2 separate regions of the Homo sapiens genome follow, and region 1 is linked to region 2. The links come from fine-mapping of genetic effects on gene expression. A gene starts in region 2. The other region holds a variant in brackets. All regions are shown on one strand. Distances are from middle to middle.

What was found. PIP is the estimated chance that this variant, and not a neighbour inherited with it, causes the effect. A credible set is the group of variants that fine-mapping cannot tell apart.
Region 1: its variant is the best candidate, but not a certain one, in a credible set for the expression of SMIM35 in whole blood (INTERVAL, PIP 0.60).

What each region holds. Positions count from the first base shown.
Region 1 is chr11:118,018,977-118,024,355 of GRCh38, forward strand. All of the region lies in intron 1 of SMIM35 (small integral membrane protein 35), which reads right to left. Among named protein-coding and RNA genes, the nearest start is that of IL10RA, 35 kb to the left of the region's middle. The variant G/A (reference allele first, on the strand shown) is at 2,671.
Region 2 is chr11:118,084,633-118,090,011 of GRCh38, forward strand. It overlaps SMIM35 (small integral membrane protein 35), which reads right to left and starts at 2,331. Exons shown (of 5, transcript NM_001394165.1): 1 at 2,119-2,331. The coding sequence starts at 2,125. The region is part of intron 1 of TMPRSS4 (transmembrane serine protease 4); the gene reads left to right.

The DNA.
Region 1 (5,379 bases), 66 kb before region 2:
TCTTACTTATAAAGTAGCTCAATTTCAGAGTAGTCCTCTCCTATCTCTCCCTCCAAGTAAATACCCTCCCAAATTTGGTGTTTATCTCTGCTGTACACCTTTTTTATACCATTACTTCATATTTTTAACAAATTCTATATATCTATGTAGATATAGAGATATATAGCATTGTTTTACATGTTTTCAAACTTTATGAAAATTATGTTAGGACCACTTCCACTTCTGGCCATGGTGGAATAATAGGGACCAGGTTTACTTTCCTACTTTCATAACTAGAAAACCAACAAACCATCTAAAACAATGGGCAAAGGTAGTACAGAATAGTGATCCCTGAAGGAAGGAAGTAAAATGAAGAGCTCTCTAGGATTGCCTGGCTTATTGCCTGGGTGAGTTCCCCGAGTTCCAGCACAGGAGGGAAAACCCAGAAAGAGCCCAGCAGTCAAATTGAGGAGTCAGAATTTAAGTTCAGGGAAGCCCAGGAAGCTAGAATTTACGGACAAAATACCAGAGAGAAGGGAGCTGGACAGAGACAAGGACTCTCAGAGATCTGCAAAGGGGTCCCCCAAAGTCTTTGGCTGTGGTTTGCCTCTTAAGTTTGCCTATAGTGTCTTTTTTGAGCAGAATTTTAACTAATATTTTAATCAAATTTATCTATTTGTGCTTTTTAAAAATCTTATTTAAGACATCCATCTCTCCTCCGAGACATACTCCTTATTTTTTTTCTAGAAGTTTTAACGTTTTGTTTTTTACAGTTTCGGACTTTAATCAACCTGGAATTCATTTTTGTATACATTATCTCCATAATTTTTGTATGGAAATTAATTTTCCATCCTTTTCCCCTTCATTGCTGCTGCTTTCATATATCAAGTTAAACAGATGTGCCTGCTTCTTTTTCTGGGCTTTCAACTGTATTCTATTGGTCTACGTGTCTGTCACTGGACACTAGACATGTAATGACAAACACTGCTACATTATCTTAATTACTATGGTCTCATAATAAATCTCGGCTGGGCATGGTGTCTCACGCCTGTAATCCCAGCATTTGGGAGGCCAAGGTTGTCGGATCAACTGAGGTCAGGAGTTCAAGACGACCAGCCTGGTCAACATGGTGAAACCCCATCTCTACTAAAAATACAAAAATTAGCCAGGTGTGGTAGCGGGCAAAGGTAATCCCAGCTACTCAGGAGGCTAAGGCAGGAGAATTACTTGAACCCAGGCAGCAGAGGTTGCAGTGAGCCAAGATCGCACTAGTGCACTCCAGCCTGGGTGAGAGAGCGAGACTCCATCATAACTAACTGACTAAATAAATAAATATATAAATAAATCTTGATAGCTGGTAAAATAAACGCTCCACTCTATCCTCCCTCATAAGCATGTTAGTTATTCTGAGTACTTTTCTCTTTCTTGTGAATTTGGGAATTCGTTTTTCAAGGTCAGTGAAAATCTCTATTAGAATTTGATTGAGATAACAGTAAATGTATAGGTTTATTTGGATAAAACTTATATATTTGAGATACTGAGTCTACAAACTTACAAGTATGGCAAATGTTTTCATTTATTTTGGGTCATCTTTTATAGACTGTCATATGTTTTATAATTTGTCCCTTAAAGGTTTGGTACTCTTCTTGCTAGATTTATTCCTCAGTACTTTATAATGTTGTTGTAAGTGTGAACAGGAGCTTGTTTTGTGTATATTGGTTTTCCATGTAATAGTGTTGCTGAATTCTCTCATTCTAATCATTTTCTTCTGGTCTTCCTTGGATATGTAGACTATTATATTGTCCGCAAATAAAGGCCATTTGCTTTCTTACTTTCTGTTCTTATATGTCTCAGTTTATTTTTCTTGTCTAATTGTATTGGTTAGAACTTCCAGTATAATGTACCTTGATATATGTATTTGATGCTCTAAATTTACCCCTAAGCATCACTTTAGCTTCATTTTATAAGACTTGATACGTAATATTTTTACCTTTGTCTGATCTAAATGTTTTTTAATTTCCACTGGGATATCTTCTTTAACCCTTGAGGTATTTGGCAGTGCGTTTTTAGTTTCCAAATTCACAGGGTAAGGTTTTTTTTTTTACTATTTATTAAGATGGACATGAGTTATAGAATTATGGCTGGTATAAGAAAAGAGTAACAGTTAATTTAATTTTAATACTAGCTCAATGTTTTCATCTAACTCATGAAGTCAAAGTAAAGCTTTTAGAAGCTTACTCTGTAGGAGGTAAAACATTGGAAATTATTGTGAATGTTACTGAAAATTCAGTTTAAAAGTTTGACATTAACAATAAAATTGTTTTTTCTTTTTACTTACTTTTGTCACTCTAAACTTCAGTCTTAGATATTTTTTTCTGGGCCTATCTTCTAGCTGACTAATTCTTTCTTCAGCTGTGTCTAATCTGCTATTAATCATCCTTAGTGTTTTAATTTGTTATGGTGTTTTTCATTTCCATAATTTTAACTTAATTCTTTTTATAATTTCCAATTATTTATTAAATTTTTCCGTTATGTCTAATTTTATATCATTTGCTATACATCTTTCCTATAGTTTTTATTCATTATTCTAGGGTTTATAAAATGTATCTTTAACTTATCACAGTCACATATAAAAGGGAAAATAAAGATATACCATATAAAAACTAATCAAAGGAAAGCTGAAGTGGCTCT[G/A]TGGATATCAGACAAAAACGATTTTAAAACAAGAAATATTACCAAGGATGAAGAAGGACATTTCATAATGATAAGAGGGACAACTCATCAAGAGGACATTTCATTATATAGCTTTAAAATATAAAAAGAAAAAATGAGTAGAACTGAAAGACAAACTTTAAAAATTCATAATTATTATTAGAGAATTCAACTCTTCTCTCTCAGCAATTGATAGAACAGGAAATCAGCTAAGGATATAGAGGACACAAACAACACTGCCAGCTAACTTGACCTTGTAGACATTTACAGAACACTACATCCAACATCTGGGGAATACACATTGTTCTCAAGTATATATGGAGCATTCATCAAGACAGATCATATGCTAAACCATAAAACAATAAGTCTTTTTTTTTTTTTTTTTTTTGAGATGGAGATGGAGTTTTGCTCTGTCACCAGGCTGGAGTGCAGTGGTGCAATCTCAGCTCACAACAACCTCCACCTCCCTGGTTCAAGTGAGGTTCAAGTGATTCTCCTGCCTCAGCCTCCCGAGTAGCTGGGACTACAGGTGCCTGCCACCATGCCCAGATAATTTTTGTAATTTTAGTAGAGACAGGGTTTCACCATGTTGGCCAGGATGGTCTTGATCTCTTGACCTCATGATCCGCCTGCCTTGGCCTCCCAAAGTGCTGGGATTACAGGCGTGAGCCACCGCCCCTGGCCCAACAATAAGTCTTAGTAAGTAAATCTCAATAAATTTTTAAAAGTTAAAATAATATACAATATGTTCCCTGACCACAGAATTATATTGGAAAATAAAGACAAAAAGATATCTGGAAAACATCCCAATATTTGGAAATTAAACAACACACTTCTAAAAACATCCTGGGTAAAAGAAGATATCACAAGGGAAATTAGAAAATACTTAGATCTGAATGATATTGAAAACACAACATAGCAAAAATGTAAGTTGAGGAGACAGTCCAAGGCAGCTAAAGTTCACAAGACAGAGGAAAGAGCTACATCAGGTAAAGAATCCAGCTATGTGCAGAGGGACCCCCTCAAGTATTCAATAAGTAATGAGTGCCTGTGTATAAAGGAGCTACCTGAGGCCAGAGAATCATCTGAAAGCATTCGTGGGAAACAGTGTCTAGCATTCAAATAGGGCTAGAAGCAGGGCCTATTCCCATAAACCAGACTAGAAAAACTCGTAATTCACAGGGTATTGGATAGGGAACTCAGGAAGTTCTTGCCTTAGTGGTGAGAATAATTAGCCTTAGACTGTTCAGCCTAAGGCTAATTATTTCCACTACACTGGGTCTTGGTTTTATGATTTGTCTACTGCTCCGAACCCATCTAACAAATCATAAAACCAAGACCCAAAAAGGTCAAACTGCTTCCAACTAACTTAACTGCTTCCCAATATATTTATAGGCAAACAAAAATATCTACCACTCAGCAAAGTAAAATTCACAATATCCTCATTCAGTCAAATATTACCAGGCACTCAGAGAGGCAGAGCAAAATGACCCATAATGAACAGAACAACCAACAGAGCACAGGCCTTGGAATCCTGCAGCCTGGGTCTGAATCCTATTCACTCATCAGTCTGAGGCCTTCAGCAAGTTATTTAACCACCAAAAGCCTCAATTTCATGTGTGTGTGAAAAAGAGGGAGAGGGAGAAAGAGAGATTCAATAAGTCTCAAATTATAAAAGACCCTTTTTTTCTATTTTATTATTATTATACTTTAAGTTTTAGGGTACATGTGCACAATGTGCAGATTAGTTACATATGTATACATGTGCCATACTGGTGTGCTGCACCCATTAACTCGTCAGTTAGCATTAGGTATATCTCCTAATGCTATCCCTCCACCCTCCCCCCACCCCACAACAGTCCCCAGAGTGTGATGTTCCCCTTCTTGTGTAAAAGACCCCATTTTTTAAGACCCAAATTATTTCCAGGGATGAAAACTACAACATCTGAGATGAAAATTACATTGAATGGAATTAACAGCACACTAGGCATCACAGAAGAAAAAAGTAGTGCACTTGAAGGCATAGCAATAGGAACTATCCAAGGTGAGACATAGAGGGGAAAAAAAGTAATAAAACAAATGAAAAAGCTGGGCGTGGTGGCTCACGCCTGTAATCCCAGCACTTTGGGAGGCCAAGGTGGATGGATCACTTGAGGTCAGGAGTTCCAGACGAGCCTGGCCAAAATAGTGAAACACCATCTCTACCAAAAATATAAAAAAATTAGCCAGGTGTGGTGGCGTGTGCCTGTAATACCAGCAACTCGGGAGGCTGAGGAAGGAGAATGCTTGAACCTGGGTGGTGGAGGTTGCACTGCACTTCAGCCTGGGTGATAGAGTGAGATGCCTTCTCCAAAAAAAAAAAAGAAAGAAAGAAAGAAAAGAGTATTAGTGAGGTGCAGGACAACTTCAAGCCACCTAATATATGTGTAATTAGATTCCCTGAAGGAGAAAACGAGGGAAAACAGAAAAAAAAATTTTGATGAGATATGGCCAACAATTTTCCAATTTTGAAGAACCTGTCAAGTTATTTGTTCAAACAAGACATTTCTTTTCCTATGAGGAATTCTGGTGCCCATGGTTGATATCATAACTCTTTTTTTATTACATCAAGGAAGGCCTAAACTATCCTTAGGAAGAAATAGACTACATTTCCTTTCAACCGACCCTCCGTAAGAATCATTCTTTTTAACT
Region 2 (5,379 bases):
CATGTGTGGAGTTCTGCTCTCCATGCCTGTAGGGTAATTGGGGCAGAGAGCACTAATTTTCACTTACTAAACTCCTCTATGTTTCAAGCACCAAGCCAGGCACATCACATGTGTCATCAATAATTCTCACCAACAACCCTGTGAATTAAGTCATATTCTCCCCATTTTACAGATGAGAAAACTGAGACTCAGAAAAATTTATTAACTTGCTCAAGACTTCATGGCTGGGAAGAGGCAGAGCTGGATTCAGGCCAGTGTCCCTGCCTCAGAGTTCAGGAGGAGCAGGATCAAGGGACAACCCCCTTCTGATCAAGGCAGCTGAGACCCCTCAAACTGCAAAGACCAACCTAGGGGACTATGAGCAAGTCTGTAAAATCATGCAAAGACCAGATGGGGCTCCTGGGGGCTTGCAAAGGTGCTGAAAATGTGCACGGTGCTGAGCAGGTGGCGCACCTTACAGAATCTTTCTCCCCATCATCTTGTGAAGTCGCTTTTATTGTACCCACATTCCAAAGAAGGAAACTGGGTCCAGGAGCTGTTTAGTGACTTGCTCAAAAGTTGTTCTACAGATGGAGGAGTCAGATCTTCTTCTTCTTTTTTTTTTTTTTTGAGACAGAGTCTAACACTGTTGCCCTGGCTGGAGTACAGTGGCAGGATCTTGGCTCACTGCAACCTCCGCCTCCCAGGTTCAAGCGATTCTCCTGCCTCAGCCTCCCGAGTAGCTGGGATTACAGGCACCTGCCACCACGCCCAGCTAATTTTTTGTATTTTTAGTAGAGATGGGGTTTCACTATGTTGGCCAGGCTGGTCTCAAACTCCTGGCTGGAGTCAGTCCCAATCAGTTCCTTTTCCCTCCCTGCCATTTCCCTCCCTCTTAAAGTTTAAAGGACAACTCAGGACAAGCAAAAGTGAGTACGATTCTTGAAAGATGGTATAAACTCTGTCTTTGAACCTTTTTAAATTAACGTCAGACTGCTCCATGGATGGCAGGTCCTCAGTTCAGGTAAATTGCAAGGTTGAGAGAACCCCTCTAAGCTTTAAAATCCATCAGCCCTTCCCAATGGCAAACCCATGAGGGTCCCTGCCAGGCTGAAAGGCTGAACTGTGTGGCGGGACCCCTTCTGGCCCTCTCGAGTCCCCTCCAGCCATTGTCCAGGCATTGTCCTCAGGTGTGCAAAGATGGTGGCACCTTCCTTCCTATCAGACCCTTCCAGGAGGGGAAGGTGGGCTCAGATGGACCCACCACTCTGGAACAGAGGGAAAGCTGAGCAAAGTAGAGCTGTTGAGAGTTCAGAAAGGTGGGAGAGAATGGGCTGCTTCCCCTAGGACAAAGAGAAGGATCGCAGAGGGATTCCTAAGCACTGCAGTAAACAGCAGCATCACCTGGAAGCAGGGCCCTCCAGTGGGAACCAGGTCTGTCTTCAGTTTAATTTAGCCCAAGGGGCATGTACAAATACCTCACTCCTGCCCTTCACATTGTCTCTGGGGAAAAAGCATAAGCGCTGTGCCTCAGTTTCTCCATTTGTGAAATAGGAATAGTTACATCTTCCCTGCCTCCCCAGCCCTATCTGAACCTAAGAGCTATGCCCGAACACAAAAGCTGATTCTTAAATGATGGGAGCTGAACAGCAGGCTGGCAGGGGATAATGGCAGGCTGCCTGACTCCTCCCTTCTGCCCCAGGCCCTGCCCTGGAGCCATTATGTGCTGAGATGGGGGATGAGGTGCTCGGCTCAAATTGCCAATAGGTCAGCACCTATGTGGTTTAGAACAAGGCAAAATGGTTTCTAATGTAGCAGCCAAGGCTGAGGTTAGACCCAAAGGAAAAAGTGCTGCTCTAATAATGACTCAACGCAAGGCAGTGTTTGTGAGGATGCTCCCTGAATTTCTGCGTGAGAGCTTAGATGCCCAGCGGCATATGGCCTGGGCTGGTGGCCGACCTGCCTAGAGACAGAGTAACAGGTGCGATCCCAGGATACTTGGAAGTCGGCATGATCAGTCATCTCTGAGGACCTCCCATGCACTCTGGGCTGCTGCATCACCACCAGGCTCATCTCAGGAAACTCACTCCCTCCTCTCCTGCCCCATGATCTTCCAGCCCTCAGTGACCCTCTCCTTACCTGTCATGGCTGAGACATCCAAGAGAGAGAGCCCTGTTGCCAGCGCAGCAAAGGCATCAAACTGCCTATTCCAGCTGCAAGTGGAGAGGACACAGCTGCTTGCCGTTGGTTTTGGGGAGGGATGCAGGTTCTGGGGTCAGAGAGCAGAGTGAGGCTCCCTCAGAGGAGCACTGTGGCCGGGCCCCACTCTGCAAGCTGACGGCAAGCACCTCTGGGTCTCTTGGCTTACCCGAAGAACTTTCCCCACCCCCTCCCTTGGGTTTTCCCCACTGCTTATTACTGGCCTCAGCAACCTAACTGCCACCTGCCCAAGCCTCAAAGGACCTGTTTATCCCATCACCTAGCAACAGCACCATCTCTGGCTCTAGGTTTTCCTATGAGACCATGGGAAGCCAGGGCCTTGGACTCCAGGGAAGACTGAAGCTGTCACCCTCTTTTGTGTGCCCCTGCTTTTCTCTCTTTGTCCACACTCCAGTCATTCCAGCTCTGCCCTTACTGACTTCTTTCCAGAGCAAGTCAATGCCAAGTCAGCATTGCAGAGAGGAAGAGAGAAATCAGGCCCCAGGGACAGGATGCTTGGCAAGGGAGGCAGACAGGAGCTGGCCGAGCTTTCTGTTCCTTTGGCCTCCTTGAGCTGCCGCCTCTTCTTCCTCTCCTTATTAGCCTGGTGGACTTGCCTGTTTCATTATGAGGTTATTAACTCTTTCATCCCATCTCTGAAGGGCAGTTCCCAATTACCCAAAGGGATCTTGAGGTTCAGAGACATTGAGGAGTGTGCCCAAAGCCACACAGCAAGTCAGAAGACAAGGCAAGATGAGAACTCATACTCTCCAGGCTGGTGGCTTCTCTGCAGCACACTTTGTGGCTTCTCTGCAGCCACTTAAGCTTCACTCCATTTAAAAACAAGAGCTGCCTTGTATCTGGGTTCATTCTCTCTGAGCTGGAAAGGAAGTTGACCTTAAGATGTCTGTTTGCTTTTTGGAGCTGAGCTAAGCCCAACCAGGAGGTTCCCCATGATCTAAAACAGTGGTAGGGGTGGGGAATAGGAATAAAGGAAGAAGAGGCAGGTGAGAAAGGTGGGAACTTATGGAAGAAAGGGAAGAACAAATGCTAATATCAATAAAGCCCCTCCTGGGAACCAAGCCCTGCAATAGGCCCCTTTCCCAACATGCTCTTTGAGGTCTCTTGACCGCATTCATGGATGATATGGCAGAGCCCAGAACTGAGCAAAGTCACTCTACCTTCACACCGAGGAAGAGCTGGAGAGATGCTGGGGGCAATCTCTGCATGATGACTGCATGCTGGTTATATCCAACAAGGCTGCATTGCAAGGGAGGAGTGATTCAAAAGGACCCAGCACCAGCTAATGACTGTTACCGAAATGAGTTCCTGAAACCATGGGGAAATGAAATCAACAGTCCACCAAGTCCAGAAACCCGGCCCAAAGGGCTAGATCTGTTCCTTACTTGCTCCGAAGCCATAGCAGCTGCCTTTTCTGTAAAATGGGGACAATTTCTCAGGGTTGTTCCATGGATTATATAGGACAGCATTTATGAAAGAAAGACATCGTAAATTATATAATAATACTCAACTGCAATAACTAATGGTTCTGCCTCCATATTTGGGTCTTGGATTAATGTCTTCCTCTGCCGGTGACAAACCGAGAAGCAGGAAAAGAAGATTCTCTGAGTTGATCAGGCAATGGCAGGTTTTCCAGTGATTGAACACCCACCCACTTCCACCTCCCCACCTCACCCGCTACCTGGGCCCTGGGGGCCTGGGCATTCTTGCCCTTCCACTGTACTGCACACAGCAGGAGCTTCATTCCCGGATGAGCCCCAGGTCAGACACTGGCTGGGCTGGACCCATGAGTCAGGGCTCTGCGGCAGACTGAATCAACAGAGAAGACAGGCCTGGCCCAGCCAGTGGCCCAAACAGAAAGGGAAAGGCCAATGCCTTTGCTTGGTCTGGGCTGGGCCGGGGCTGTAACAGTTGTAGGCAGAAGCTGAGTTCAAGCTGGGGGTAAATAAATACATCTCCAGCAAAGCAGAAGGAAGCACATGTGTTGTTTGGTGACCTCTCAACTTCCTCCTTCCCTCTATTAACTCCAGGTTAAGACAATTCTATCCGACCTCTGTTTTCTCATCTGAAAATAAGGAAGTTGCCTTGTTTCAGCTTTGCATCTTCTGATCATGGCGGGGACCCACCATGGTGATGGGGTCTGGCTGGATCTCTGAATTTTACCTGGTACCCACATCTCTCAGACCCATTCTCTCCTTTCCTTAGCTCAGGATTGTTGCTTCTGGGCTCAGAGGAGATGCAGCTGGCCATAAGTCCCTATTTCTATCCTGCTCAGGGATGTCATCGACATTGATGGCCCCCAGTTGACACTCACAGGCCTAAAATGCACCTACCTCCCTGCCCATGAGCCCCAGTACTCGTGACCTTCTGCAGCTCCTCTTCCAAAGGTGTATCTGTCCATCAGCTCTGACCTGTCTGTGTCACAGATATTTGCCAAAGAGCTTCAAGAAAAGCCAAAGAATGAGCTACTCATGGGGAAACTCAGGCAGCACAACAGTAAGGGCAGAGCATGGTGAGGACATGAGTTTGACCTCCTCAAGCCACTCAGCATAGCCAGGTGATGGCTTTTTTATGTTTTCCTTGAGCCTTGGGTGCATAGCATTGGGGGAACTAGAATCCTTGCTTCATGACTTTTTTCACTATTGGTCCATGCAGGGCCCATTTGTAACTTGCTAGTTAGTTGGATTTAACAATGTAATAAGCCTCCATAAACCCATCATCCCCAACAAAAGCTGGACTTAATAGTAACCTACATCTAACCATGAGGTTCCCACTCCTGCACACACATATCCATCCCTCTCCTGAGGTGGGTAGAGCAAGTGTCTTTCGTTTATTAATTCGACAAATATTGGCTATACATATTTGATAGGCAGGGACTGTACTACAAGCTCCCTGCCCAAGTAAGTTCTTCCCAAACCCCATATTCATCATTCCCTTGCTTCTCTATAGAAAAGATTCTGTGCTATATGTAATCTTTTGGGACTAAGTTTTTCCCTTAATATTACATTCTAATATCATCCTTATTATTATTTTGAGATGGAGTGTTGCTCTGTCCCCCAGGCTGGAGTGCTGTGGCACCATCTCACTCACTGCAACCTCCCCTCCCGGGTTCAAGGGATTCTCCTGCCTCAGCCTTCTGAGTAGCTGGGATTACAGGCGCGTGCCACCACACCTGGCTAA